2 linked regions of the Homo sapiens genome follow. The protein of the gene in region 1 interacts with the protein of each later gene in a pairwise test. Each region holds a gene or a part of one and is shown on either strand. Other genes may lie near its edges.

Evidence for each region. Proteins that work in one complex are often made in the same cells at the same time.
Region 2: the proteins of BTG3 (region 1) and HECTD2 interact in a two-hybrid assay, tested with the Homo sapiens proteins (one large-scale study listed by BioGRID and IntAct).

The regions. Positions count from the first base shown.
Region 1 is NC_000021.9:17,593,121-17,596,026, reverse strand, and holds the end of BTG3 (protein BTG3), read left to right. Parts: intron 1-1,694; coding exon 1,695-1,934; 3' UTR 1,935-2,374; downstream 2,375-2,906. UniProt on the Homo sapiens protein: Overexpression impairs serum-induced cell cycle progression from the G0/G1 to S phase.
Region 2 is NC_000010.11:91,413,215-91,416,871, reverse strand, and holds part of HECTD2 (probable E3 ubiquitin-protein ligase HECTD2), read right to left. Parts: intron 1-3,657.

The DNA of each region.
Region 1 (2,906 bases):
CTCATTTATGATCAGAGGAATGCAGATTAAATCCATATGAAACACTAGTTCTTCCAGAACTGCACAATTTAAAAGCCTGACAGCATGAAATGTTAGCAAGGATGTGAAGCAGCTAGATTCATAAACTTGCTAGTCATGTAAAATAGTACCACTACTTTGGAAAACTGGAACTTTTTAACGTTAAATGTGTAACTCTTCTATTACTCAGCAGTTCCACTCCTAAGTATTAAATATTTACCAAAAGAAACGAAAATATGCCTATAAAGCCTTCTATTAGAATTAACTGTGCTGTTATTCATTGCAGCATTGTTTTGTTCGTTGTGTATCATTGTTTTTTTAATAGTAAGAGACTGAAAACAGCCTCAATGTCCCATTACTAGGAGACCATTTAATTTATAGTCATTGCTATACTATCTAGCTGTAGAAAAATGAGAAGGATCTTTATGTATTGATATGTTTCTGAAATGTATTATTATGAAATGTAAAAAGCAGGATACAATCCAGTATACATATATATTTTTAAAGTGTGTATAGATGTGGATAGAATATCTCTAAAGGTATATTTAAAAAAATGTTTGGTGTCAGTTGCCCTTGAGAAGGGTTAAGATAAAGAAGATAAAGGGTGAGATAAAAAAAGAGGGACTTTCCACAGTTTACCCTTTTGTACTTTTTGAATTTTCTATCATGAATGCAATGCTATACACAATATAATTTTTTTAAAAAAATCCTATACTTAGAAATGCAGATTTGAGATCAGCAAAATCAGAAATTTAAGAAGATGTGGCATTCTAAGCAGAGAGGTCTAAAACTGCTGATAAGAACACTTTGAATAATGTGAACCTGACGTGCCCACCTGATTTATGGGATAATCTAAAACTATTATTCCCAAATACTAAACTGGCTACATCAGAATCACCTGGGGAGCTTTGTCAAAATACCTGGCCTCTAGTTCTGAGATTTTATTATTGTTCATTAGACCAGTGCTAGGGCATGAATGTTTTGTGTTTATCTTTTTTTTTTTTTAACTTTTATTTTAGGTTTAGGGATACACATGAAGGTTTGTTCCATAGGTAAACATGTGTCACAGGGATTTGTTGTACATATTATTTCATCACCCAGGTGTGAAGCCCAGTACTCAATAGTTATCTTTTCTGCTCCTTTTCCTTCTCCCACCCTCCCCTCTCAAATAGACTCCAATGTCTATTGTTTCCTTCTTTGTGTTCATAAGTTCTTATCATTACCTCCCACTTATAAGTGAGAACATGCGGTAGTTGATTTTCTGTTTCTGCATTAGTTTGCTAAGGATAATGGCCTCCAGCTCCAATGTTTTGTATTTAAAAGCCTCCAAGTGACTCCTGGCTTAGCCAGCTGTGGAAACCACTGGACTAAAACAAGCATGTCCTTACAAGCTTCCATTCGTTCCATGTTTTGGTCTTTTTTGGTTGAAGTTGTTTAGGAAGTACTGTGTTTGAGTTTATTCATTTCTTTATGCATTCAGAAAACATTGGTCACCTGTTATACATTATACGCCTATTACACATGAGGTTTTTAATGTATTTAGACCTGACAATAGGAGTGTCACTTAGATGTGATCTCAGTGTTGTGGGTAACTTTGTTTGTCTTTAATGAGAAATCTGGAACATAGATGATGATTTTTTCCTTTGAATTAACTTAATGTGTTCTCTTCCCTACAGATTTCAGAACTTATATTTCCACCTCTTCCAATGTGGCACCCTTTGCCCAGAAAAAAGCCAGGAATGTATCGAGGGAATGGCCATCAGAATCACTATCCTCCTCCTGTTCCATTTGGTTATCCAAATCAGGGAAGAAAAAATAAACCATATCGCCCAATTCCAGTGACATGGGTACCTCCTCCTGGAATGCATTGTGACCGGAATCACTGGATTAATCCTCACATGTTAGCACCTCACTAACTTCGTTTTTGATTGTGTTGGTGTCATGTTGAGAAAAAGGTAGAATAAACCTTACTACACATTAAAAGTTAAAAGTTCTTACTAATAGTAGTGAAGTTAGATGGGCCAAACCATCAAACTTATTTTTATAGAAGTTATTGAGAATAATCTTTCTTAAAAAATATATGCACTTTAGATATTGATATAGTTTGAGAAATTTTATTAAAGTTAGTCAAGTGCCTAAGTTTTTAATATTGGACTTGAGTATTTATATATTGTGCATCAACTCTGTTGGATACGAGAACACTGTAGAAGTGGACGATTTGTTCTAGCACCTTTGAGAATTTACTTTATGGAGCGTATGTAAGTTATTTATATACAAGGAAATCTATTTTATGTCGTTGTTTAAGAGAATTGTGTGAAATCATGTAGTTGCAAATAAAAAATAGTTTGAGGCATGACAACGCGTGTTTCTGTTGTGTGCATAAAAGGGGAAAAGAACGGGTATTTCCCTTCAATGTATTTAACTAAATAGCAAAAACATTAAACAGAACGTAAGAATTTTAAAATTTCCTTTGAAAAATCAACTATTAACCATACTTTTCCTAAAAGACCACATATCAGAATATGCATATGAAAAGTTAAAAATTTGTTAGTGGTAGTTATTGAAAATATAATAAAACATCTTTTAACTATCAGTGTCACTATACATAGGGTTTTTTAACAAAGAATTTGGCTCGTACTAATTTTGACATGACATCTGACTTACATGTCTAATGCCATTGCATAAAGTAGATGTGTTCTTACAGCTGCTCTAATCTCTGTGCCTTGTGCTTTTTTTAAAAAACATTTAAGTCTTTACTAGAGGCCTAAAATAAAGTCAAATAATACAATACTTCAGATTCTTCAGTAGTCCATATTTATACAACTGTAATTCCATCAGTCTTGTAAGGGTACTTGAACTACAAAAAGAAAAAAAGAGATATCTCTATA
Region 2 (3,657 bases), on another chromosome or scaffold:
GGGAGTGGTGGGGTGGTGGGAAGGATAATAACTCGGAGGTGAGGGGGACGGTGGAGGTTTATAAAGGCAAAGGCAATACATACAGGGCCTGAGGCTTGATATAGAAGGCTGTTAAGGAAAGTACCAAATCCACAGGACAGGAGTAGAGGAGAAAGGGCTGGCTGGCTTACAAACAGCTTTTCAGCTACAGATGTTGCTTTATAAACACAATCATGTGTCACTTAACAATGAGGATATTTTCTGAGAAATGCTTCATTAGGCAACTTTGTAGCTGTGCAAACATCACAGAGTGTACTTATACAAATCTAGATAGTACAGCTTACTACACACCTAGGTTATATGATATAGCCTATTGCTCACATGATACACACACCTATAGAGCATGTTACCATGCTGAATACTGTAGACAACTGTAACACTAAGTATGCATCTAAACATATCTAAACAGAAAAGGCATTAGACTGCCTTCAGATTATGTGATCTGTCATTGACTAGAACATTGTTATGTGACACACGACTTTAATAATCTCATCTAACACTGAGTGCTTTGTACAAGGTTTTTTTCTAAATGTTTTATGTGTGTTAATTTAGACTTCATTTCTACCTTATGCAGTAGGTTCAATTATTATTTTTGCCATTTTATAGATGGAGAGTTATAAACAGCAAAGCAGAATCGTACTTGACTTTTTTGGAGGTTCTCTGGCTCACAATTTATAATGACCGCTTTTCTCCAATTGTTAAATATAGTTATAAATTATTTGTGTCCTAATGGGTTATTCATGAAGGGGAAAATAAGCAAGCACTACATTATGGCTTTGTGGTTTAAAAAAAAAAGTTGACAAAGAGACTTTACGGCTTTGTGGTTTAAAAAAAAAGTTGACAAAGAGACTTTACAACCCACTCAAACTTAGAGACATGCTGGGTATGTATTTATAAAGCCATAGCCCTCCCTTTTTATGTATTAAGTCTCTTGGACTATTTTGCTTCAATCAGATTGATTTTACATATAATTTAATGATCTATTCATACCATAAAAAAGCAAATAGATATCCTAGAACATATCTTTCCCATGATTGTTCTATCTCTAGTAACAAATATCTGAACAAATTTGTTACTGGACAACATGCTCTTTTTCAAACTAGAAATACTGCCATAGGTGCAGCTTCTTTGTACCACATGGTCCCTATTACCTATGACCGCAAATGTCGAGTGTTCAGAATTGGGCAAAGAACATGAGTCGGAAACATCTCTGTTATAAAGCAACCACTGTCCCTGACTAGCCATTTTACTCCTTAGCAAGGTACACATAACCTGACTCTCAGATTCTTTTTCTGTGAAGTGGAAAAATATCTTCCTCACAGGGTTGTTGTGATTGCTTTTGGTTGCATTATTTAACTAAATAAAAGAATACATGGCAAATGCTTAGCACAGAGTAGGCACTCAATAAGTAGCTATTATTGTTATAAACACTTATTTTGTATATTTGTAATATCTGTAGTTTATTCAATTACTTAAACATCATCACCATAGCATTCATTCTTTCCCATCTCACCTCTTGTTTAGAACATAATGAACAAAGAGCACAACATTTTTCATACAAGATTGTTCCAAATACCTAGCTGGGCATATTGTTGTTAAGTACACACACACACACACACACACACACACACACACACACTTTCTCTAATTTGGAATGCTATTGACCTCATCTGGAAACCTGAGTCCTTTTCCTTTATTAATCTTTCTTCTCTTTCATTTCTGCTGTCTAGTTAGGTCCCACATGGTGTGTATGCTCCCATCCCTTACACTCTGTCCTGTGGCCACCACCTTAGTGGATGCACTCATTGCCTCAGGCATGAGCTACAAAGCTCTTTTCTTCACTTTCTCCCTCCTCTAGTTTAACTATACACTACCACTGATTTCATTATGTTGTTCCTCTGTTTCAGAAATTGCAATAGCTTCCCACTAACCGCAGGGGGAAAAAAAAACTGTCTAAGCTTTTCTGCCTAGTGATCTGGCTCCAGCCCCCATGCAATCTTTCTCACCTCCCACAAGTTCCCAGCATGCTTCCACTGGGCTCGCTTTATTACTCACTAATTTTTCCTTTTAAGCCTTGCTCATGCTGTTTTCGTCACTGGATTACTTTGCCCACTTTCTTCTGCCTATCCAAATCCTATCATTTTTCAATGGCCAGCCAGCTTAAATAATTACCTTTACTTCAAGGCCTTTCTTCACAGTTCTGCACACAGTGATCTCCTTTCTCTCATCTCTGATAGTACAAATTGTTTCTATGGCTCATTGTGGTTTTTACATATTGCTTTGCTTTTCATGTGTTAACCCTGCATACCCTGAGGCAGAGACCATTTTTTAAAACCTTGTCTTTTTGCATTTTTTGTAGCACCTAGCACAAAGCTAAACATAACAGATGTTCAATAATTGGTAGTTACATTTTGTCCCAGGGACTCCATCAACCCCATTTATACACAACTGATAAGCCAACTTCTCATTCTTGTTACTAAACTTTCCATCAAATTCTCTCGACACACCTTATGCTCACCCTCAAACTCTTCCCCTTGTCTTCCATTATAGGCTAACATCCCTTTAAAATTCTCAACTAAATTCCTCCCATTTCTCTTCACCTCTCTGACCTAAGTCAAATCTAGCTCTTTCTTGAACCCAATGTACTGGTACCCTATCCAGAGGGTTCTACCCCATGTAGAACCTCTCTTTTCTGTTCACCTGATTAGGTGTAGAAGTAGCCAGTCAAATTCATCCTCGCTGCCACTGTTATTTCTGCCCCACCTCTAAGCATTTTCTTCTTTCTCATTCACCACTTTTTTAAACATGTGTAATACATCAGTAACTAATTTATAATATTCCACTCCAATCCATCAACCTCAGTAAATTTAATATTCACATCATCAGCCCTTCATATCCATACATTACTTCAAATTCTTTATTCTGTTTGACTCCATGGATTTGCATCACCTCTCCACAGCAGCAAGGCCAAGACCCAAACACTGAAAGTCTCTGAGGGCTCCATCTTGAGCCTCTTGAGAATCTCTAACTGGAACCACTGCCACTGCCATTTCTTTCAATTCCCCACCACGCCTGATTTCTACTGTCTCTTGTTCACTTCATCCATACCTGTCACAAGTCCATTTCAAACGCTGCTCCACAAACTAAGTAGATTTGGGAGATGGTAATTAAAAAATACAGATTCCTACACCTTGCCCATGGAGCTTTTGATTCAGTATATAGAGTGTCAAGTTTCAATCTTGGTATACCCAGGGAATTAAATTTAAAAAAGATGCCTGAGCAACATCCCCAGAAATTCTGATTTAACAATACTGCATTTGGGCCTGGATAATGATGGCTTTAAAAGTTTCTCAGTTAATTCTACTGTGCATCTAAGGTTGAAAACAGGTGCTCTAGGGTGAGATGTAGGAATGAGGACTTTAATATGCTACCAAGGTAACTCTGTGGTCAGTCAGGCTTGAAACCACTGTGTTAGGCACCTCCTCACTAGCTGGAATGGACTTCCTTCACGTTTAGATGGTCTTAGGATAAAACACTTCAGGGCTGCCCTTTCCAGCATTCTTTCTCCCACCCCTGTACCTTTCTGTAAACATAAAGGATACAGCCTAACTCTTCAAC